Homo sapiens: one gene and its partners. The protein of the gene in region 6 purifies or fractionates together with the protein of the main gene of each other region. This does not show direct contact. Each region holds a gene or a part of one and is shown on either strand. Other genes may lie near its edges.

What was found.
Region 1: the proteins of MTAP (region 6) and ANXA6 fractionate together in Homo sapiens (co-fractionation; one large-scale study listed by BioGRID). This does not show direct contact.
Region 2: the proteins of MTAP (region 6) and NT5C3A purify together in Homo sapiens (affinity purification with mass spectrometry; one large-scale study listed by BioGRID and IntAct). This does not show direct contact.
Region 3: the proteins of MTAP (region 6) and CYRIB fractionate together in Homo sapiens (co-fractionation; one large-scale study listed by BioGRID). This does not show direct contact.
Region 4: the proteins of MTAP (region 6) and SUMO4 fractionate together in Homo sapiens (co-fractionation; one large-scale study listed by BioGRID). This does not show direct contact.
Region 5: the proteins of MTAP (region 6) and MTPN fractionate together in Homo sapiens (co-fractionation; one large-scale study listed by BioGRID). This does not show direct contact.
Region 7: the proteins of MTAP (region 6) and TAGLN3 fractionate together in Homo sapiens (co-fractionation; one large-scale study listed by BioGRID). This does not show direct contact.

What each region holds. Positions count from the first base shown.
Region 1 is NC_000005.10:151,151,280-151,154,779, forward strand, and holds part of ANXA6 (annexin A6), read right to left. Parts: intron 1-3,500. UniProt on the Homo sapiens protein: May associate with CD21. May regulate the release of Ca(2+) from intracellular stores.
Region 2 is NC_000007.14:33,056,277-33,059,776, forward strand, and holds part of NT5C3A (cytosolic 5'-nucleotidase 3A), read right to left. Parts: intron 1-3,500. UniProt on the Homo sapiens protein: Nucleotidase which shows specific activity towards cytidine monophosphate (CMP) and 7-methylguanosine monophosphate (m(7)GMP). CMP seems to be the preferred substrate.
Region 3 is NC_000008.11:129,852,561-129,856,060, forward strand, and holds part of CYRIB (CYFIP-related Rac1 interactor B), read right to left. Parts: intron 3,188-3,500; coding exon 3,051-3,187; intron 1,784-3,050; coding exon 1,706-1,783; intron 1-1,705. UniProt on the Homo sapiens protein: Negatively regulates RAC1 signaling and RAC1-driven cytoskeletal remodeling. Regulates chemotaxis, cell migration and epithelial polarization by controlling the polarity, plasticity, duration and extent of protrusions.
Region 4 is NC_000006.12:149,399,035-149,401,778, reverse strand, and holds SUMO4 (small ubiquitin-related modifier 4), read right to left. Parts: upstream 1,518-2,744; 5' UTR 1,388-1,517; coding exon 1,100-1,387; 3' UTR 501-1,099; downstream 1-500. Other genes in the region: TAB2 (TGF-beta-activated kinase 1 and MAP3K7-binding protein 2), read right to left, coding at 2,595-2,675. UniProt on the Homo sapiens protein: Ubiquitin-like protein which can be covalently attached to target lysines as a monomer. Does not seem to be involved in protein degradation and may modulate protein subcellular localization, stability or activity.
Region 5 is NC_000007.14:135,967,360-135,970,859, forward strand, and holds part of MTPN (myotrophin), read right to left. Parts: intron 1-3,500. UniProt on the Homo sapiens protein: Promotes dimerization of NF-kappa-B subunits and regulates NF-kappa-B transcription factor activity. Plays a role in the regulation of the growth of actin filaments.
Region 6 is NC_000009.12:21,801,382-21,805,435, reverse strand, and holds the start of MTAP (S-methyl-5'-thioadenosine phosphorylase), read right to left. Parts: upstream 2,801-4,054; 5' UTR 2,688-2,800; coding exon 2,655-2,687; exon of another isoform or gene 2,570-2,654; coding exon of another isoform or gene 2,486-2,569; intron 1-2,485. UniProt on the Homo sapiens protein: Catalyzes the reversible phosphorylation of S-methyl-5'-thioadenosine (MTA) to adenine and 5-methylthioribose-1-phosphate. Involved in the breakdown of MTA, a major by-product of polyamine biosynthesis.
Region 7 is NC_000003.12:112,005,422-112,008,921, reverse strand, and holds part of TAGLN3 (transgelin-3), read right to left. Parts: intron 1-3,500.

The DNA of each region.
Region 1 (3,500 bases), on a different chromosome or scaffold from region 6:
AACCTAGACCATACTGCTCAAATTGGCTGAATATTTTACATCTAGTGTTTCTGAATCCCACAAGGGCCCTTAATAATCCATGACTCCAAGTCCCTCATTTTCTAGACGGGGTAAAGGCATCTCAGAAAGAGAAAGTGACTTGCCAGGGCCCAGGAAGCAGCCAACATCTCTGCCTAGCAGCCCTCGATCATAACAAGTCCCCACACAACTGTGGGTCTTGGCTGCAATGGGACACCAGGAAGAGTCCAAAGAATAAGACCCTGGTTCTGGTTCCCAGTCTGCCCCCATGTAACCTCAGGCAAGCCAGATCCCTCTCTCAGCCTTAGTTTCTTCATCTCTAAAGTGGGACAATACATCACTCCCTCTTTGGTAGGATCTATAGTTAGAGGCTTTTAGAGACTTCAACTCAGGATTTTCACAGCAGAATATCAGTCCTAGGAGGGTCATCTCCCAGGCCACAGGATTCCTCCCCATCTCCACCCGCCAATATGCAACATTCATCACCTTGGTTGAAAGAGCTGTTCAAGACTAGTAAACAGGGTCATTCCAGACCTGTGCCTCTTTCCTCCCAGGAACCCTGATTCTCTCAGATCTAGATGAGATATACTGTGACGACTTATCATGACTGATCATTCGTGAAACCCACACAGGAGCAGAATGAATGGCCTGGGTGGCTTTGTGCTGCTGTGGCCACCCCTTGCCTCATCCTTTTGCCTGCAATCAATCACGTTTTCCTCCTTCCCCTTCGAGAGTTCCAGGCTGACTCTAGAAGGAACGGCTCACCACTGCCCAACCACAGAGATGTGGATAGGGGAAGGGTTTTATCCAAGTCATGTGAAGGCATGGGCCTTCAGGCACAGATGTTGCCCAGCAGTTTGTGATGTAAGTAAGTTACTTAAACTGAATCTCAATTTCCACATCCGCAAAATGCAGATAGAAATACCTATAGGTACTGAGAAATAAATGAAGTAACGGGGGGAAAACACTTAGCACAGTGCGTGGCACACAGTAAAGGCTCAATAAATGGTGGCTTTTATTATAATAAGCCCAAACATTTACAATGGAGGCAATGTGGCATTAGAATCAATGCAGGATTTGTGGTCGATGCCCAAGTTCAAATCCTGACCATGCAAATTCCGAGCTCAGTAACTTGGGCAAGTTATGGAATTTCTCTGCCTCAGTTTCTTCATCCTGAAATGACCCTCTTGTAAGGTTTTTGTGAAGATTCAATGAAATAAGGCAGGTAAAACACTTAGCATGGCCAGGTACAGATTAAATGTTTAACAAACGGTGACTTCTGTTGCCACAATCATCATTATTACAGCAGTAGTCTCCAAAAAGGGGTAATGGGTATGACAATCCACTGGGGTGCAGGACAAGAGTATCACCACTTTCCAAATGTTTTAATCTTGCCCTTTTATGTCCCATTTTTATTTGTTATACATGTATAAAGTTAAAGAAAATATTAGGGGTGCAGGCTGATAGAGGTGCACAGTCAAAATCTGGATTCAATGGAATGGAGGCAGGGGCATGCCAGGAAGAATAGTAACACCAGGGTAAGAAAAAGCATTTCTGTCATCGAAAGGTAGCTTGGGCTGTGGAGGAACAGAGTACACTTTTGAGGGAAAGGAGATGTTGAGCGTAAGGGGGTGAAACCAGGTGTGGTGGGAGGGTGATTTGAGAAAAAAGAAATAATATGGAAAATCATGCAAAAAAACCCACCCAGACCTCTGCCTCAGGGGAGTGCCTGAGGGGCTACAGCCTGAGCCACAGCACTCCTCTGCTCACAAGTCTCCAATGGTGCCCCTTAATACTGGGCCTCTAAGCTCAGCAGTCGAGGCCATTGGTTCTCCTTACTGACTTCTTTGCCATCACCACTTTCCTCTTTGCCCTGTCTTCCCTGCTAAACCAGGAACGCCTTCCACCAACATTTTTAATCCAGCTTTCCAGAATCTATACCAGTGCTTTTCAATTCTAGCTTCACTAACAGAACCTGGGGAATTTTTCAAAACTACCAAAGATTTAAGGTCAGCCCTTAGAGATTCTGACTCAACTGCTGGGGTGAGGCCTGGCCTTTGGTAATTTCTAAAAACTTTCCTAGGTGATTTTAATGGCAGCCAAGGAGGCTGAGAACCACTGTTATCTGCTGGATTCAAATGCCGCCTTTTCTAACAAGCCAGAAGGTATTCCCCCGCTAGGGTGCTCTGAAACCACCTTGATTTGACTGGCTTTGGTCAACCACTGTGGATTTATCATTTCTCCATTAGATAAGGGCTGCCAGCCTCCAAGGTATTATGGGAAAGAATCTGTACTTCAAAGGAAAACCCTCCAGGTTGTCTGACTCGAGACTTTCATTGTCTTTGAGTGATTTTACAGGTCAGTAAGTTGCAAATAATTGATGGTAACACAAAGTAATTCTAATACATACTCCTTGCCCTATTTTGTAAAGGTCCAATTGATTTCCCACCCCCTCAGGTAAAAAAAGAGTTTTGTCTCTAATTGCACATTTCTTTCAATACAAATGTGTCTTTTGAGCTGGTTATAACATCGGCCTGGTGTGGTCATTGATTAATAAGTAGAACAGCACATGATCATTTTTGTATCTGCATGAGTCATAATTTTACACTTTTTAGAAAATTACTGCATATGCCTCTTTCCTGCACCCCCTCCCATAGGGCGTGGCTCCTATGGATGGTTGGGGGTAAAATGCACTAAGTGGCTTTCATGCTTTCTTTAGTGACCTCAGCAAATGGAACCATCTACTATTGGTTTTCAAACTGTGCTTTACTCCTCTTTCTATAGCCAGGAGATAAACTAGAGAGGTTAAGTCACTTACCCAACATCAGAAGAAAATCAGTCATCAAGCAGGGGCGTGTTTTTCCATAAACATTTATTTGAGCACCTCCTACAAACCAGGCCCACTGGTAGAAGTTGGGGGTTGAACAGAAAATGAGACAGACAAGGCTCCTGGCCCCACAAAGCTGGTGATAAGGTGATGTCATATGGCAGTTTGCAGTATATATATATATATATATATATATATATATATATATTGATCCCATACACAACCCATAACCAAAGAAAAATTGAGTATTTACCATGATAAACAGAAATATACCTTTAAAATATGACATTAAAAGTACATTTAATAAGGAGTCCAATAGTTTCTTCCTGTACCCCCAAAAGATCATCTTCAGTGCGTCCTGGGGTATATCCATCCCACTTAGAAGGCCCCTGGCCTATAAAATCTAGATCCTTCCCTCTTTGCCCTTTCTTGCTGGCTTCTCCCCCGGTCTGCAGGAAGACACCCAGGACCCGCTCCATAACCCTCCAGGAGCCTTGATTCTGATGAAGCTGGGGTAAATGCCTTCCCTGGCTCTGTGCGTGGGCACACCCCCCAGCTTGACGACTGGGGTTTCTTAGGGAGCAGTGTCTTTTCCTCTCCTGACCCAGAACCATTGATCCTAGGACTGGACAAGGCCTCAGGAGATCATCTCTCT
Region 2 (3,500 bases), on a different chromosome or scaffold from region 6:
CAGGTCCTAAAAAGTCATAAATCTAAGCACTGATATAAATTAGATAAAAATTGAGATATGGAGATATTTTAAAAGTCTGTCCAGGTATGGTGGTTCACACCTATAATCCCAGCACTTTGGGCAGCCAAGGCAGGAAGACTGCTTGAGCCCAGGAATTTAAGACCAGCCTGGGCAAATAGTGAGACCCCGTCTCTACCAAAAAAAAAAAAAAAAAAAAAAAAAAAAAAAAAAAAAAAAAAATTTAACTTAGCCAGGTGTGGCGCCACATGCCTGTAGTCCCAGCTACTTGGGAGGCTGAAGTGGGAGGACTGCTTGAGCCCACGAGTTTGAGGCTGCAGTGAGCCATGATCGCTTCATTGCACTCCAGCCTGGCAGCAGGGTGAGACCTAGTCTCAAAAATAAAATAAAATAAAGTCTATTTGATTCACTAAAGCAGTTGTTTAAAACTTGGGTTGCTTCTCCCTTCTTTTTTAAAACACAGACTCAATAGTGGGCTTTCGATTCACTCAGTATAATACCCAGAAAACATGTGATATTTTCTTTGTTTTTTTTGAGATGGAGTTTTGCTCTTGTTCCCCTGGCTGGCGTGCAATGGTGTGATCTCCGTTCACTGCAACCTCCGCCTCCTGGATTCAAGTGATTCTCCTGCCTCAGCCTCCCGAGTAGCTGGGATTACAGGCATGTGCCACCATGCCCGGCTAATTTTTTGTATTTGTAGTAGAGATGGGGTTTCTCCATGTTGGTCAGGCTGGTCTCGAACTCCCAACCTCAGGTGATCCGCCCGCCTTGGCCTCCCAAAGTGCTGGGATTACAGGTGTGAGCCACCGCACCCGGCCCTTTTTTGTTTTTTTAACTGCTCCTTGAGGAGCAGGGCTAACTCATAGGCAATGCACCCAGAGTTGGCCTATATTGTCTTAAAGTGGAAGAAGGGAAGAAGTTTTTGTTAACAGTTTATTTACTAGGACCAGGCACAGTTGGTACACACCTGTAATCCCAGCATTTTGGGAGGCCAAGATGGGTGGATCTCTTGAGCCCAGCAATCTGAGAACAGCCTGGGCAATGTGGCAAAACCCCCATCTCTACAAAAAAATACAAAAATTAGTTGGGCGTGGTGGTGCGTGCTTTAGTCCTGGCTACTCTGAAGGCGAGATGGGAGGATGGCTTGAGCCCAGGAGGTGGAGGTTGCAGTGAGCTGAGATTCAACCACTGCACTCCAGCCTGGGTGATCGAGTGAGACCCTGCCTCAAAAAGAAAATAAAATAAAAAAAGAAGTTTATGTCCTAGAAAGAAACACAGTATGCTAAAGTTTTAAAAAAACCACATCAGCTACTTAAGTAATAGTTGACATTAACAACAAAGCAATAAATTGTTGAGATATGTTTAAATTGGAAATGACCATTTTTAACTGGTTGTAGAGGTTCTAGTGATCGTTCCATCTCCCCTATCCCCCACATCAGCTACTTAAGTAATAGTTGACGTTAACAACAAAGCAATAAATCGTTGAGAGATATATTTAAATTGGAAATGACCATTTTTAACTGGTTGTGGAGGTTCTAGTGACCATTCCATCTCCCCTATCCTGCTGTCTAAATAATTTCCTCCCTTCCTCGTTGGTTTTTAGGGGCTAAGCTTAAGACTACACATTCATTCTAGTGTTGTGCTTGCATTTTACTTCACTGGATAAATACTCTACTTTAGAGAATTTAATAAAGGATATTAGAATAACTGAATAAGATTAAGCAATCTCATTTTTTTTTCCTTTTGGCTCTTTCTTTGAATTCTAGTCTCATCCTCTTTTTGGTAGCTTTATTAGAGAAAAACTGAAAATTTGCTGATAAAAATAGAATACATTCTGATATTGCAGGAGAAATTAGAAAAGAAGTCGGTATGTAACATTTGAAAGAGGTGTCATTTAGTAGGAAAAATCAGATTAACTGGATAGAAGTAATGAATGAAGTAGGTGGAGGCAATTAATCTAAGGCTGTAAATAATAAGATGTAATATAATGAGAATATGGAGAGTAAGTAACTATAATTCAGTATGAATAGTACACTTTTATTATTTTTTTATTTTATTTTATTTTATTTTGAGATGACATCCTGCTCTGTCACCCAGGCTGGAGTGCAATGGTGCAATCTTGGCTCACTGCAACCTCTGCCTCCTGGTTTCAAGCGATTCTCCTGCCTCAGCCTCCCAAGTAGCTAGGATTACAGGCACCCGCCACGACGCCCAACTACTTTGTTTTTTTATTTTTAGTAGGGACGGGGTTCCACCATGTTGGTCAGGCTGGTCTTGAACTCCTGACCTCAGATGATCCACCCGCCTTGGCCTCCCAAAGTGCTGGGATTACAGGCGGGAGCCGCCGCGCCTGGCCCAGAGTAGTACACTCTTTCAGAAAGACAGAGATGTTCCGTATTCCCCTCAAAAGGCATCTGTCCACATCTCCCCTAGAACTTTGCTAGACTGATTATTTTTTCTCCTCCTCTTATCTTTAACCATTTGCTTTTCACTACTCCTCTGCCCACCAACATACTTCTGTGCCAACCATTCGAAAAACAAAACAAAATACCCATCCTCAGCACAACTACTTCCTCTGCCCAAAAGTCATTTTTTAGTTGTCTTCACATCATTGTTTTACCAACGGCGGCTCAACCCACTGCTACCATAGCCTTTCAGACCAACTTCTGATCTTGTCATCAACTTCTGACCTTAGAGAAGATGGACATAGCTAATTCTGCCCCTTCTTTTGGAAACATTTCCTGTTATTCCACCTCTGACAGCTTTCAGCATCTTTACTGAACTTGGCATTGCCAAGTTTTCTGTTTTCTTCTCGCTGTAAAACTATGGATGAGAAATAATATCCAGCTCCACACTGGCCATTGAGAGGCTAGACATTAGGGAAAATATTATTTCTAGCCTCAATTTATCTTTAGAGCTCCAGCCTTCCATTTTCAGTTGCTATTGCTAATAATAACAATAAGTAATGTATATATTGGTTACTCTGGGCCAGGCACTTTTCTAAGCACTTTAAATATATTAACTATTTCATGAACATTTCTAGTTGGTCATTCCTTGATCATCTCAAATTTCATATGACTTAAAGTGAACTTGTGATTCCACATTTCCCTTACCTCCTGGCTACTTTCCAAACCTGCCATTTTTTCCTTCTCTTCATCTTGGCTAATAATATAACCAGAATCAGCAGTTACCTGATAATCTTAAAGTTATTTCTCCTTACAATTAATCCCTTTATCTAATGATCACAAATAATAAGCTCTGAAAGAAAGCAATTATGTTCTAGGCACTGTGTTATCTCATTTAATCTTCACAACCTATGAAGTAGGTACTATCATTATCTCCCAATTAATAGATGAAAAATGGGAGATTCAGAGAGGTTAAGTAATTTGCCCAAGGTCACATGGCTTGATAAATGAGAAAAACTAGATTCAAAACTAGGTTTGTATGACTCTACAGTCTGTGCACAAAGTCCCGTTGATTTT
Region 3 (3,500 bases), on a different chromosome or scaffold from region 6:
AAAATTGTACCGTCCTCCATTATGAACAATAAGTATCCATACAACATCCATGGTAAGATTCTAACAGGTGATAACACAAAAAGGGAGTCAGAGAACATTAAGTTGGAACAGAAGAAACTAAGGAGAAGAGTTATCCTTTTGCAGGTCATATTGGGCAGGTAAACAAGGTATTCCAATCTGGCAGGGGAAAGAGTATGTTTTCAAATGACTCCCTAAAGAGTAATTCAGCATATTCAGTGTAATAAGGGGCTGCAACCAACGAAAGATACAGGTTGGGGTCAGACTGTATAGTGCCATAAATGCTAGCTTAAGTTCATATTTTTCTTCCATGTGGAATGGGGAGCCATTCAGTGTGTTAGATGAAAGGAATGACAACTAAGTCAGTTTCCTAAAGAAAATTAACTGATAATCGTGGGCAGATTGTACCAAAATGGAAAAAGACTTGTAGGTCCGAAAATGAGTTATGCTGTGCAGAGTGACTGCCAGAAAGAGTGGGAATTAGGCTCTCTGTTGGAACAGTGGGAGGAGGAGATGGAAAGGGGGATGGAGAAGACATTTCAGAGATATTTCACTTGAAAAAAATTGGATTTTACCTGTAATTATTGAGGGTAAAAGGGAGAACCAAGATGACTAATGTCTTTAGCCTTAAGTGATGGCAAGGATGGGTATAGTATAGGATTGGCTGCTTTGCTTTTTGCTTTTATCTTATTTTACATGGTAGGTATGAAAAAGACAGATGTTAAGGTCAGTCTCACACGAGGAACTGGTCTATGCAAAAATCAAATTGATGCAAATTACAGATGTTTCATAAAGAGGAATCTTTTCCTCCAACTCAGTGCCTTAGTGCAAGTGCTTCCTAAAATATTTTTTCAAGGAAAAAGAAAATGAATGATAGTCTTTGATATATATATTTTAAATATCTTATGCCACTTATTACTCCTTACATAGTTACAGTATTTCTCTATTAAACTATCTATTTGAAACAAGGGTTGATCTTTGAAATTTTTCAGACCAATTATAAGGTTCTCAGAAACACAGAGAACAAGTTAATATTTTCTTCCGCTCTAGTTTTACTTATGGTATTTAGTTCCTTGGAGGTAGAAAAGAGTAATAAACAGCTTAAGAGGAGGATGGTAAGAAGTTAAGAGACCTAAAGAAGCCAGAAGAAATGCTATACTAGCCAAGGAGCAGGCACAAAGCCATTTTCTCAAACAGCTATATCAGGCACAGATGTGTTAACAGGCCATGACCTCACTATCACCTCTTGCCAGCATTAACCATTAATTTCTTGGAGGAAAACGGACTTGGGTTCAAGATTTCTCTCCAAGAAATTAACCCACGTCAATTTCTCTCCAAGACTCTTCCATTCTAAGAATATAGAGACAAAAAACTCGTAACTATGAATTCACAGAATTTCTGTACAGTTAAAATGAGAGTACATCGCGAAATTTTATAAGGATCAACGTTATACAGATAAGCAATTTTGTTGAAGTAGTTGTGGGAATTTAAGAGACTGTGAAGAAAAACAGGTAAACACCATATGGTTTGTTACAGTTTGCTTTTCCTCCTACAGCTATGGCTGCCCATAATTACTAACTTTATTACTAGCTTTAACACTATCTGAATGAACAAACAAAATAATAAAATGAACAGGCTGAGCACTAAGTTACTCTTACCATCCCCCTAATTCAAAGCATTAACTTACCGGTACATTGTTAATCCTCATACGACTCAATGTTCTTCTATAATAGCTGAAATCATTCTGTATGGCAGGATTTGTCATCTGAAGAAGACAGTTGTGGAAAAAAAATGTTATGTACTAAATGCTAATGTAAAAAAACTAAGTAAAAAATCTTTAGTTTTAATTAGTATAAAACATTCCATAATTCATAGTATCATTTTAAGAACTAGCACTGGTATAATCCAAGGTGGCTTATAACTGTATTTAGTCCTTACTGAACATATAAAACGAAAGACCACAGGCAGTATACTTTCCCTTTTCTTTTCAGTTAATTTCAGGTAATGTACTAAAAGCTTGTTTATCAAATAAACAAAAACAAAAAGGACTGTTTAGGCACTTGTTTTTAGTTATTACGATAAAAGTATGTAGGTATGGTCAACAGAGCAATCCTCAAACTAGAATTTTACATACAAATCTGACTGTGATACAACTATAAAATGCTGAAGTTTGGAATCCAGCTCTTCCATTTTCTAGACAGGGTACCAGAGGCCCTGAAAAATCAAAGGACGTGCCCAACGTCTCATGACTAGGGTTACTGTGGCAGAGTATAAACTGGAACTCAGGTCTCTTGATATGAGACCTAGTGCTTATTCCTTTACATTCATTCTTTTTAACAACAAGGTATTTATAGTTCCAAACACTATAAACAATGACAGAGGAAAAAAGAAACAGAAAGAAAGGAAGAAAGCGGGAAAGGAGGAAGGGAGAAAAAAGAAATTTTAGCAACATTTTAATATAAAAGAATGTTGAAAAACGGGGGTAGAGGGTGTGAGCAGAAAAGAAAAAGTATTAGAAAAAAAGCTCAACCTTTTGTTTCGGAGATTAATTTTTAAACAAGGTTAAATGAAGACTGCTGAGACATGTGGATCACCTGAGGTCAGGAGTTCGAGATCAGCCTGGCCAACATGGTGAAACCCCGTCTCTACTAAAAATACAAAAATTAGCCAGGCGTGGTGGCACATGCCTGTAATCCCAGCTACTTGGGAGGTTGAGGTGGGAGAATCACTTGAGCCCAGGAGGGAGAGGTTGCAGTGAGCTGAGATCACGCCACTGCACTCTACCCTGAGTGACAAAGCAAGGCTCTGCCTCAAAAAAAAAAAAAAAAGATTGAGACCGAATACTCAGTAATTTGCTCTTTGCCATGTATCAAAAGACCCGTCATTAATTTCTAAATCCAGCTTTGCATTTTTATTAAGGTCTAGCAGACATCATTTAAATACATTTTAACAATGTTTCCCGGCTCTTCCTCCTAGTACTCATTAAAAGATTCATGATTTTCGTAACAATCAGGGCCAATAGATAATTCTACCTTGAGTTCATCAAACCGGAGTGTGAAATGAAGAATTTCTGCAAACTGTTTAGCAAGAGCCTGCTCTCGCTCTAGATGCTGGGTGGGAGAATATGGGGTACTTGTTAAGGCTCCCAGAAGACCTCTTAATGCTGCTTCTAAAGAAAAAAATTGAAAAAAACATTAAGTTGTTTGTATCTGTGTGATATTTGTTTATTAAAAAGTGAACAATTCATAAATGTTAATTCCCAGAAAAGTTCTCTTTAAAAAACAGATGATCTAAACATAATAAAACTAATTAAGAAGTTTAAATGTTGCCATTGCTAATGTACTACACACATTCTGAATACTATTTAACAGAATAAAAACCTTAAACGGACTAATTCAAGGGTTTATAATTCTGTAAACCCAGATTGAAAATAGTGCAGAAGTGAATTTGAATTCAACACCAAAGGGCAAGTTTTATATTAC
Region 4 (2,744 bases), on a different chromosome or scaffold from region 6:
TTAGAAAAAATACGTGGAATGATTTCTATCTTCTTAGGTTTGTTTAAACTCGTTTTGTGAACTAACATATGATCTATCCTACAGAATGTTCCGTGTGTGCTTGTTCAAATCAGCTGTTTCTTTATTCATTTTCTGCCTGGATATTCTATTATTGTAAGGGGGGTATTGAAGTCTCCTACTATTGCTGTCAATTTCTGTCGTCAGAACTGTCATTATTTGCTTTACATATTAATGTAGTCTGATGTGGGGTGTGTATATATTTATAATTTTTATATTTTTCTGTGGAATTGATCCTTTTACCATTACATAATAATCTTTGTCTCAAGTTTTAGACTTAAAAATCTATTGTTTCTGATATAATTATAGCCACTTTTGATTTCTTTTAGCTACCATTTATATAAAATCTTTTTCCATCCCTTCACTTTCTGCCTATGTGTGTCTTTAAATATAAAATGAGTCTCTTGTAGATAGTATATTATTGGATCCTGTTTTTATTTTTATTTCATTTTAAACAAAAAGTTTATTTAAATAAGAAGCCTGACTTGAAGGAAAAACTTTCTAGGATTCTTTCTTTTTTTTTTAGAGTAATTTATCCCTACTTAAAGACAGATTGCCCTACATGTAACAGCTATGTACACAAAAGTTATAAAATTGTCCTTGGTTTTACAATGATAAATGAAAAACATGAAAATCCTCCAATTGAACAAGGTATGTGAGAATTTTTTTTTGTTGTTGTTAAAACAGTGAGAGCAAAATAACTTACTAGAATATAAAGATAAGACCTGAATGAACATGCCACTAATGGATAAAGGGGGTATTTTCACAGAATCAGTATTTTTTCCCATCCTGTCTCCACTTGATGTCAATCAAAACATACCATTGGCTGTTTGGTTTGAAGAAAAAAGCAATATGCTTGTGTACACATACCAGTTACTTCATGTATAATAAAAGAATGTGGAAGGGGGAAACAAAAGAATAGAGAAAACTATACTGTAGTAGTCAGAATGTGGTGGAACCAAATTGCAGTTTTCTAATTGAGAATGCAGTAATCTTGGTCTTTAAAGAACAGCGTTCTGGAGTAAAGAAGCAGGTTCCCTTTTCAGTAGACACCTCCCGTAGGCTGTTGAAACACATCAATTGTATCTTCATCTTCCATTTCCAACTGTGCAGGTTTGTCTGTTCCACTGATTGGTTGCCCACCAAATCGGAATCTGATCTGCTTCACTGACAATCCCCGTGGTTCACAATAGGCTTTCATTAGTTTACTAAGTGGTGTCTGCCTCTTAATCTTAAACTGCACCACAGAACCATCCTGTCCCGCCACCTTCAAATTAATATGATTGTTGTTCTCAGTCTTGACTTCTTCTGTGGGCTTTTCGTTGGCCATGGTGAACACCGGAGTCTCCTCAGCTGCTGCTTCACAAAAGAGGTGGCGGGTCCGCACCTAACGAGTACACGAGCAGCAGGAAGAGCAGCAGGAGGTGACAGCGGTGGATGAGGGAGAGGGTGCGTGCACATCCTGGGCTCCCTCCCCTCCCGCTGTGTGCGCCAGCACGAGCTGTTGGGGCCTCCCATTGGCTGCTGCCAGATCCTGTTTTTAAAATCCATTCATACAACTCCTTGTGAGTGGTGAGTTTAATCCATTTCCAGTTAAGGTAATTACTAATAAGTGAGGACTTACTATTGGCAGTTTGTTGCTTCCTGTCTATTTGACAACTGTTTTGCTCCTCTTTTCCTCTTATTGTCTTGTTATTCGACAACGTTTAATCGTGATTTACTTTGATTATATTTGGTTATACTCTTCTATTTTAAGTTGATAACAACTTAACTTCAAATGCATACAAAAATACTACTGCATCTTTACAACCTCCACCCTCCCACACTTTTGTGTTCTTGCAGTTTTCTTCTTTTAATATTATGTATCCATTAACACATTTTTACCTTTTAACTTTCTTATTAGAGTTGAAAGTAAATTATATACCACGGTTAAGTGTTAATCTGTAAATATGTCTATATTTTTACCTTCAGCAGTGATATTTATGTACCTGTTTCCATTTCTACACACATTTTAATGCCTGGATCAAAACACACAGACATACTTTGAAATGTCTTAGTTTGGTGTGCATATATTCTGAGAATATCAATGATGTAAAATGATAGAAGGTAGAAAACTATTCACCTGGAATTTAGGGTATTTTGATTACTTAAAGTTATATATAAATTAAACTAAATACTCATGGGGGGGGGGAACTTCCCTAAGGTATCTTCCTTATCATTTGTCTAAAGTTTTAAATGATACAAATTTTTGTACTTAGTAATTGTTTTTTAACCAAGACTTGCTATTATTGGTTGGGAGTACATAGTGTTTCCTAAGCTCGTGCATATTACTTTTAAAAAGCTAAGAATATTACATCTTTGCATCCTTCCCAACCCCAAGCATGTAAATGAAAATAAGCAAACATCTTCTTAATGAATTCATTTAAGAATGCCAAAGTTTGAAGCAATTCTAGAGAGGAAGGTTGCTGAACAGGAAAAATTTTCTAAAATTTTGCTTTTCAAAAGTAACAGTTTTCACATTTAATGGATACACTAACCTTTGGGTTTTGGTGGCACAGGACCTACAAATCCAATATTGTCATAAAAGTTATGAATAGCGCTGGGGTTAAAATGTGGTCCTGAAATATATAAAAAGTAAATATATCAATGCTTATAGCTCAAAAACAACTTTACTTTTTAAAACAAGT
Region 5 (3,500 bases), on a different chromosome or scaffold from region 6:
CAGGAAGAAGAAGAAATTTGCCAAGCAGATGTTGTGGGACAAAAAGAATAATTTATTAGAGGTAACAGCTAGCACAAGATGACTTCATTAGCAAACACAATGGTGTAGCGGAAAACCAACCAACCAACCCTCATCCAAGTTCAGGAAAACTGAATTTAAATTTCAATCTCAAATAGCACTATGATACTGGTCAAGGGCTTTCACACTTAATTTTTCCTTATCTATAAAATAAGGGAGCTGGACTAGTTGCTCTGTAAGTAATCTTGCTTCTAAACAAATTTATGAGGATGCTGATTAGTAACAACAGCTAATATTTACTAGCACTCACCATATGCCAGGCACAATGGTACACAGTTTACACTTATTATGTAGGTATTACAATCATTCCCATTTTCACCAATTGAAGAAACTCAAGTTCTGAGTGCTTAATTCACCCAAAGTGTCTAGTTAGTAAGAAGGCCAGACCTGGAAGATCTAATTCCAAAGCCAACACATTTAGCCTCTATGCTATGGTTTCACCAATAATGCAATTCCAAATCCCTAAAGGACAGTGCCATAATGAGCGTCTATTGTACTATGTTTAAAGTGTTTACTACCTACAATTTTTTTGTGGTTGAGATGGAAGTCTTGCTATGTTGCCCAGGCTGGTCTTGAACTCCTGGGCTCAAGTGATAGATCCTCCTGCCTTGGCCTCCCAAAATGCTGGGATTACAGACATGAGTCATCATGCCTGGCCTACAATTTTTTTTTAATACCTCCATTTTTCAGTATTTTTCAGATACTTACTTTAGGCCTAAGTATCAAAATGCTCATTCTTTTTTATATGTCAAATTGAAATCTTCCTAAAATATGTTATACATGTCTCTGACTTTGTAAATAAGAGAAAAGTAACCAAGTTTAAACTTTTCGTGAAGCTCAAGGTTACGCTTATACATATTAATTATTGCCTGAGGCCTCTGAAACTTTAAGGTAAATATGGCTCTTTGCCCTTCACTTTCTTGGGTCAGCTTCTTACATTTTGGTTTCTTTTCTTTCAGTAATCACAGCTCCTCTTTACACTGGTAATTTTCTGTGGACTGAAAAAAAAAATCAAGCTTCTAAGCTTATCAGAATTATTTAGTAAAGATATAGCTGCAAAAAAATTACTTTCAGCCATTTTTCTTATTACAAGGTGGCCTGTGATGTAATACCATAAACTAACTTTCATCACCAATTTTGCTGTGATTTGATTATCTAAACACACTTCCTCTGTTTTGAATCTTTGATATGGCACATTCTCACAGTGCATGACATCCTCCTAAGATGATTCATAAAGAATTAAAAGTTAAAGTATTATGTCCCACAGATCACACGATCCCAGCATTCCAGAAAAAAAAAAAAAAAGCTTAATGCTTATTAAAAGATACAGGTTAAGTTTTAGGTAGGTTCAAATCATCCTAATATTTTTCTTGAGATTATGGGAAAAAAAATTTTAAGGAATCACCTGCAAAAATCCTAAAGAGAATGTGAGAGGGAGATACTAAAACCTATTTTGAAACCACACATCATTAAATCAGTTTGGTATAGATAGAAAAAGAGCAAGAAATCTGTTTATGATAAAGATGATGGTTCAAATTATTAGTAAAGAGGAACTACATTGTTCAATTCCCACCTATGAGTGAGAATATGTGGTGTTTGGTTTTTTGTTCTTGCGATGGGGATTATCACACTCTGGGGACTGTTGTGGGGTGGGGGGGGGGGAGGAGGGAGGGATAGCATTGGGAGATATACCTAATGCTAGATGACGAGTTAGTGGGTGCAGCGCACCAGCATGGCACATGTATACATATGCAACTAACCTGCACAATGTGCACATGTACCCTAAAACTTAAAGTATAATAAAAAAAAAAAAAAAGAAAAAAAAAAGAATGTCAGAAATTACTAGAAAAAATATTAAACAAAATAATATTTACTTAATACAGATAAGAAGTTTTAAATATGATTTATTGAACATTTCACCTTAGAGCTTCTCAGTCTTACCAATTTAGCCATTCTAATAGTTATAATGTAGTATCTCATTGTGGATTTAATTTGCATTTTCCTAATATCTGTTATAATATATACCACTTAACGTGCAAAAAAAAAAAGAGGAACTATAATAATAAATGGTATGAGAACTGTCAAAAAAAAAGTATACACTTATTTCATGCCTTACTTCAAAATAAATAATGGAAAGGTCAAATGTCCAAAATGGAAGAAAAAATGAAGTTCCAGAAGAGCAAATTTATTTGTAATTTTACAGAAGAGAAAAGGTCTTTGTAAACAGGATACAAAATCCAAGTCACAAAAGAGAAAAAAAGCGATACATTTAACCCCACAAAAAGTAAAAGACCATTGTAGAATAAGAAAATAAATGAAGTCAAGAGATTAACTGGGAACGATATTTGCAAAACATGATAAAAAACTGATTTCCCTAATTTATAGAGTTTATACAAACCAATAAAAAACAGACCAACTAAAAGAAAAATAAACAAAAGACATAAACAATCATTTTTCACCTATCCAAATGGCAAAATCTAAAAAGTCTGATGATGCCCAGTGCTGTTGATGGTGTGAGGGAACCATCGGTCTCATGTCTGCCAATGTGTGCCTAAGCTGACGAAACTCATGAAGAGAGTAATGCAGATATAGTCTCAAAAGTTGTCAAGGTATATGTACAAAGGTGATCACGACAATCCTGTTTAATTGCAAAGATGCACTGGAAACAAAATGTTTATCATACGGGAATAGTTAAATAAACATCCAGAAAATGGAATACTATTCACCATTTAAAAAGGGAAGAATAAATACATTTCAATGTGGAAAGCAAAGTGCAGAAGTGTTTACAGAACTTTTTAAGCGGGAAAAACAGATGAGTAAGTAAATTTTCAATGTTTTTCTGAAATTAATTACATGGACCTGTTGAGAATGGCTGATTTGTTCACAGGCATTGGGGAGGGGAGATCTTTACCTTTCAGTCCTAACTGTGGCATTTTAAAATCCACATCTGAATTAATTTAATTTTACTTTTTAAAAGTTAGGAGTTATCTAAATAGTAAAATTTTGGCCAATTTTTGTCTTCTTTATTCTTTTCTGTTTTAAAAACACCTAATCAATTTTATATTTTAAAGAGAGGAACCACATAGGTAGGAAAAATAGTCAATGGGATATTTTACTTTATTCAATACAGCTTTGCTTTTTTAAATAACAAGCTCATAATATTGTTATAATTTCTATCAGTTTTAATTCATTAAATTTTTAATTATCTGCACTAATAAAAGGAAAATGTTTAGAATCTCAAACCAAAACACTTTATATAGCCTATGTACATCTGAATGAACATTTATGTTCCAATGTAAAAAAAGATCTTCCTCTATTTTATATATTTTTTAAAATGACTAAAAGCATTAATAATTAGAAAAGAATCTATACTAATGTTTCTCTGTCTACTGAGGGCACCTGTATCTTATACAAGCTGACAT
Region 6 (4,054 bases):
CTAGAATATAAACTTGAAGAAAATAAATAAAGGCCTCGCTTACTCAAAGCTGCATCCCCATTGTCTAGCAGGTATTCAATAAATATTTTTGAATAGGATTCCACCAGTAGATGGCTAGATTTGAAAGATATGCCAAATATACTGCCAATCCAAAACTCAGTGGAATCTTTCACTTGCATGAGTTAACTGCACCTCTAAAATTGAGAATGAATTTAAGATCCACCCCGTTAATATCTCTATTTTAAGAAGAGAGGTACTTGGGCTGACATTAAAGGAGTACCTGGAACTGGGCTGAGTGTGTTACATGTTACTGTATTTAAATCCAGCAACCTCTCAAAGGACCTGCCAGTGACACCAATGGGGTTCAGACACACATGTGCCTCCTATACCTATACCTGGGTGGTGTGCAGTGGGCACTGGAGGCAGCCTGCTTTCTGCATACCCTCTGCCTCCCTCTTCAAGATGGACATTCTATCAAGTGCTCATTTTAATTGTGCATTAGGTCACAAGAAAACAGGGCAGAGACCACACTTCAGATTTCAGAAATGCCTCACATCTAGTTGGTGGAATGCCAGGCTCTAGGCCCAATTCTGTCATTATCTAGGTCCAGCTGTGTAATTCTGGATACTTAGCTGACCTTTCTGGGCCTCAACTTTACACCCGCAAAACGGGTTTGTGTGGCTATATGGATGGTCTTGAAGGAACACTCCAGCCCCATCATTCTATAATTTGGGAATAGGATGTGGTTTTTATTAACCTATTTTGCTCTGGACACTGGCACCTCACATCTTCTATACAGAATGTTGCCTTAGAAGTCTGGGGAATACGGTGCTGGCATCATGGAATCTCTACGGCAAAGCTGTCATCTGTTCTAAATTAAAAGAGAAATCAGCAGGCAGTCCTAGCACCATATGTACCTCTTAATTTTATATCCAGAAGCTTGCCAAGACCAAAAATACACACTATTCAATATTTACATCAGGTCTCTGAGAATCCCATTGCCCATTCTGCACTTAAATGCACTGCATTAATTTGAAGGGAAACCCTGTGGCAGGGAGAATGCTAACCAGATTAAAGTAAGACTGTTTTAAACACCATTTCTCCATTTTTAATGGCGCTTGAAGTGTATTCCTGCAAGGATAAGGTGAAAAGTTGTGGCCTAATGATACCTAACACAATAACTTAATAATTTTTGGGGAAAAGATCATTCAAAATTAATCTCAGTTCCCCCACTTATAAGCACTACCACTTAATAAGCTTCTACCATGTGCAACATAGACAATATAATTCTAGCCCTCCTAGCAAATTCTGCAGTAAAATTCTCAGTTTATAGATGAGCACCTAAGAGAAGTCACATACTTCACACGAGTTTCATGAAAACCATTTCTGCCTTGTTTCCGCCAAACAATGAAGGCAGGGGAGAGGCCTTCTATAAATATTTGCTGGATGCAAGATTCTTTTCAAAATGACAAAATAAGTTTCATATATAAGTCTGGATGCAACACCCTTCACCATTCCTCTCATTCTAAGTGGCTCATTTAAACCTGCAAGGGCGTAATAAACTAATCTGGCTGATTACACACTGACCGCAGAAATTCGCCTTCTCCCGGGAAAACTGCAGTCGAGTGTAGGGAATCGAGATGCTTTGGAGAAGATCGCAGACCTTCCTATCCCATAGGCCAAAAATTTCTAAAAATCAAACAAGAACGCATTCTTAGCCAGTAATAAACTGCCTAGAAGAGGTCTTAAGTTTTATCATCAATTTTTCTTTACGTGCTGTAATTCTCTCTCGGAATACTAACCAGGAGAGAAGTGTTTAAAACCCCAGGGAAGCCAGCTGCTACTCTCAGAACTCGTGCCCTCCTCAGCACAAAGCTTCCCACCGCACAATGACCCCTTGTATCAAGGCCTCTCAGGGCCTAGGGCACAAGGAAATTGAACTCTAACTTGCAAGGCTGCAAAACAAAGCAGTTTCAAGCCAGAGGCCTCCAAACAGTGCAGCCCTAAAAACGGACGCCTGTACTCCTTTTCGAAGAAAGTCTCAGAATTCTTACAGTATTACGCTGCTGGGGAAAACTTCAGCGCGGAGAAGGCCTACGTTTGGAGGAAAAAGAAGCCGGAAGCATACAAAAGAGCAAGTAAGCAGTTCTCCCACGTGGGCCGCAGGCAACAAGCAGAGTCAGAGAGCGGAAGCTGGAGTCCCGCAAGGCACCAGGAGACGGTCACAGAAGCTGCAGGCGCCCGGACACCTCCTGACTCCAGCCGGGTGTCTTTCTTGGAAGAAGAGTGGTTCTCAGGAATGGTGGTGGCATGGGTGCAGCCTCTCCCATCCACGACCTCTCTCTCTAAAGGGGTGCCTACGCCCTACAGGGTGCGGGTGCAGATAAGCCAAAAGGTGGTGTGTGTGTGTGTGTGTGTGTGTGTGTGTGTGTGTGTGTGTGTGTGTGTGTTGGCGGTGCGGCAGGGGGATCATTTGCAAGCGTACCCTCTCCTCGCGCGGCAAGTGAGTCCCGAGTGCCGCGCCCCAGTCCCTCCCCGCGGCGGCAAGGGACGCACGGGCCGGGCGCATGGCCCCCGGAGGCGCGGTCCCCCGGCGCGGGGGCGAGAAGGCATCCGGCAGGGCGAACCGCTGCGGCTGGGAGGGCTCATCTCACCTTCACGGCGGTGGTGGTGGTGCCAGAGGCCATGTCTGCACGGGAAAGGAATCTGCAGTGGGCGAGCGCTCGGGACTAAGGGAACCAAGCGAGCCACAGAGCGGTGGCTGTGCCAACCTCACTGCGCGGGAGTGAGCAGTGCGGAGACCAGGGGCGGGCCTTGACTCCTCCTCTTCCTCCCCGGGACAGCTGGATTGGCTGCTTGTGTGGGATCTCCCCCGCCACCCCTTCCCCAAATCGAAGTTCCCGCGTTCCGCCCCTTTTGCAGACCTTTCCGGTTCTCCAGGTTTTTGTCGTTTTTTTTTTTTTTTTATCCCCAGTTATAACTAACGGATAATGATAATAATGGAGACCATTTATAGAGCGCTGTATTGTTCCAGACTGTGTGTTTTGCACTTTAATTGGCTTACTTAACTTTCGCTAAAACCTTATAAGGAAGAGCAGCACTCCCTGCTTGGCCCAATATTAGTGGCGTCGGAGGCCTCAGCTGCAAAATCTGGCCCGGCGGCATTCCAGAAGTTCTCGCGGGAGGGAGAATCCTCACCAAGGCGGGTACTGGCCGGCCACGGAGATTCTCTTAGGCAGCTAACGCGGGGCGGCCGCCGCGGCGGGGGCAAGATTTGTCCTTCCTGCGGCTGCGAACCCACCGCGGGTTTGCGTATTTCCCTTGATTCCTGGAGGACAGAGCTGGGATGGACTTGACCCAAGACTCAGGGATGACGAAAGGGAAATAAACAGAGTAACGTAGTACTGGATAATCTTTCTGATTTACGAACTATGATTTACTCATCTTCAATTTGAGGGGCCGCTTTTAGGGGGTTGAGACCTTGCACAACTCCCAGTCTGGCTCTACCTGGCTGGGGGCATCTTTAACCCGTTCTACGCCGGAGCGGCATCGAATACACCTGGATTCAGAATCCAAACTCAGGTCTCCGTCATTCAACACTAGCAGGACGCACACACACACACACCACGAGCCCTTTACAGGGATAATCCCTCATGCTTACAGCCCCCGTCCCTTCCCTACTGGGGTAATCCAATTTAACCTTCCTTGATGGATTAAGCGTTCTGAAACAAAATAATGGGTGGCAAGGATCTTAAGGGTGGACTCTGAGATGTAGAAATGCTGCAAATTAGCCTGGACGTGGGAGGAGGGCCGAGAAAGGGGATGCTTTCCTCTTTCCTTACAGCAGCAAAACACGGAAACAAAACACAAGTACAATTTAATTCAAAATACCACTGTGTGATGTTAGCCTGGATGCTGCTCATAGAACCTATTTACTTAAACAGTATAGACTTTCGTCCTCACATTACTATAAGCTTTAGGTCTAAATTTTCTCACAATGTAAAGTTTTCTTTCTTCTGTTACAATCATCTATTTCTTTTAAGTTATAAAATGC
Region 7 (3,500 bases), on a different chromosome or scaffold from region 6:
TGTACACTCTGCAGAACCGTGAGCTAAAATAAAACCTCTTTATGAATTACCCAGTCTCAAATATTCCTTTAAAGCAACAAAAATGGACTAGTACACTAAGTTAATGATTGCCAAAATTCTAAATAACACTATGACCAGAAATCTGCCTTCTGGAACCAGTTCACATCTAGCTCACTTTCTTGTTATGTTATTCTTGTTATGTTTCCTAATTCCAGCACTCTTGGACTGACAAGATGGGAAGAGGGCCTCTTTCCAGCCTTCCCTGTCTTGTTTTGCCAGTTCAGAAGCCCACATCAAGCACCATTGGATGAGAGTGGCACACAGGAGTCAGGGCCACTTGTAGAAGCTGATTTCTGCAACTGGGGGTCAAAAATTTAAGTGCATAAAAAAGCGCTGAGGTTAAGGAAGCTCTGTGATGTGCACGAAGTATAAAACAACAAAAGGCTGGGCACAGTGGCTCACAACGGTAATTTCAACACTTTGGGAGGCTGAGGCAGGAAGACTGCTTGAGCCCAGGAGTTTCAGGCTGCAGTGACCTATGATTGCACCACTGCACTCCAGCCTGGGCAACAGAGGGAACCCCTGTCTCTAAATAACAATAAGATAAATGAAATAAATTTATAAACAAGAAAAGAAAACTAGTCGTATCACAACCAAGTGTCATATCTGCCTAATGACAAAGCCTTCAAAATTGTGCAAGTATAAAAAATGGCCATACACAGCCTGCTTTCCCAAGCTTCTTGGATTATTTATGGGAGTTTGCAGGGGGGCATCTCTTTTAAAATATGCATTTTGAGGTCATTCTCCTGAGAGAATGATTTGGTAAATTCTGGGAGTCCATATTTTTAATAAGCTTCCTGGGTGATTCATATCTTCAGGCAAGTTTGAGAGTTATAGGTGTTGCCTGGTGATTTGCAAGCTAAACTGATCTTCAGGATTACCCAAGAATCTTAAATATTCAGATTCTGGGGCAGTCTCCTGGGATGATTGTGAGGCAGCCAGATGGACAAGCAGATACTACTCTAAAGCTTTGGTTTTCAATGTTTAAAAACATCCCCATGTCTGCCATGTGGTAAGTACTAAGTAATATTTGTTAAGCAATAACTCCTTTCTTCAGAGATATCCTCCACAAAGTCAAAAGTAAAAGCGATAATTAGAAAAGCTCTGTTCCAAGTTGGAAGTCAGCCCAGAGCCCTGCAGCTTGGAATGGCTTTGCTCCCTGACAGCCACCCTGGATGCTTTGGTAGATGGCTGGGGCTCCTCAAGTGAGCTTGAAAGCCACTGCTCCAGGCCATTCTTCCAAGAACAGAAAAACATTCCTCAAAGAAGGATCAACTAAGTGTCGGGAATTTTCTGGATGGAGGGATAGCAAAAATGAGATAGAGTCTGGTTATCTAAGAGCTGGTGGAATCTGAAAAGCATACATACTGTATGATTCCTACTTTATGACATACTAGAAAAGGCAAAACTCTTGAGACAGTAAAAAGATCAGTGGTTGCCAGGGTTGAGGGTGGGAGGGATGAAAAGGCAAAGCACAGAAGCTTTTTAGGGCAGTACTTGATATGACACCGCAATGATGAATATGCGTCATTATACATTTGCCCAAATGCATAGAATGTATAACAGCAAGAGTGAACCTAATGTAAACTATGTATTTTGGATGATAATGATGTGCCAATGTAGGCTGATTACTTGCAATATGTGCTCCTTTCGTAGGGGATGTTGATAATGGGGAAGGCTGTGCATTTGTGGGGGAGAGAGGGCATATGGAAAATATCTGTACCTTCCTCTCAATTTTGCTGTGACCCTAAAACTCCTTGAAAATATTAGTCTTAAACAAAAAAGGAGCTGATGGTATGGTAGCTTTCTCTGTCTCACCTGGCAAGTGTTTTCAGCAAGAGTCTCACCTAGCAACTGACAGCTTTACTTGACAATACAGAGCTCCCTATTTCCTACATTGTCACAAAGTAATGTTATCCAAAGTGTGATCCTGCACCCCATATTACTAAGTTATAACTCCTGGGGAGTAGGACTGGAGGTTCTGCATTGTAAGGCCCCAACCCAGGAATTCTTAATGCTATAAAGATACTTTAACAAGGATTTTGTTCCATTAAATTCTTTATTACTTCCAAGGTATCTTATGTATGTCTATGAAAATAAAAAGTAAATGAAAAGGATAAAGGCAAAGAAAAAAGGTAAAAGAGAAGTCATTTGGGTGTGTCAACTTGGATTGGACAGTCTCTACTTTCTATTTCTACTTTTAATACAAAAAATCAGTCTTGCAGTCAAAGTTCTTTGTCTCAGAGCTATTATACTTCTATTATATATCAGTCTTGACTCAGCCTTGTAACTCTTAGAATACTGGATTTTTCCATCTTTCTTGGACTTACAGAGAAAGTAAGCAGTAGTGTATGAAACCATGTCTTATTTCCCTGAATAATAACTTTGGCCTAGCTTCCAATTCTCCACTGAAGGTAGACCAAAATATTGCAACAGTCAAGGGAGAAATATCAGGGGTGAGGTTGGGTTTGCTCTGTGGATTTTGTAAATGTTTGTTGCTTGCCTCCCTGACTCCCACTGCTCTGGGTGGTGGCTCTTACAGTGGGGTTCCCAGACCAGCAGAATCAATATGGTCTGTGAATTGGTAAGAAATACAAATTCTTGGCCTCACCTCAGACATATTACCTCAGAAACTCTGCTGTTGGGGCTTAGCAGTCTGTGCTTTAACAGGCCTACCTAGTGATTCCGATGCATGCTGGCATTAGAGAGCCATTGCTAAAGGAAAGACCCACCAAATACAATCGTCAGCAGCCACTTGAAATAAATGCAGTGACGGCTGCTCTGATAGAAAATGAGGCTTCCAGGCCAGGCGCGGTGGCTCACGCCTGTAATCTCAGCACTTTGGGAGGCCGAGGTGGGCGGATCACGAGGTCAGGAGATCAAGACCATCCTGGCTAACTCAGTGAAACCTCTTCTCTACTAAAAATAAAAAAAAAATTGGACCATCCTGGCTAACTCAGTGAAACCTCTTCTCTACTAAAAATAAAAAAAAAATTAGCCGGGCGTGGTGGCAGGTACCTGTAAGTCCCAGCTACTCAGGAGGCTCAGGCAGGAGAATGCCGTGAACCTGGGAGGCGGAGCTTGCAGTGAGCCGAGATCAGGCCACTGAACTCCAGCCTGGGCGACAGAGTGAGACTCCATCTCAAAAAAAAAAAAAAAGAAAAAAAAGAAAATTAGGCTTCGAGCAGCAGACACTTGTGATGTCTCAAGTCATTACAGGTACTTTACTTACAATATCCCAAAAGATCTCTCATGCTGTGTGAAATACCTCTTCACTCTTGCTGTTGAGGAATGACACATAAAGTGACGCCTTCCCAGAGAATATATTTGAACCTCCAGGCCCTTCCAATGTAAACCACACCTCCCTAACTCCCAGTCATCAAAGGGGGAACAGGCATGACATCACCATGTGTTCAGGATCCATACCAGTAGAATTACTA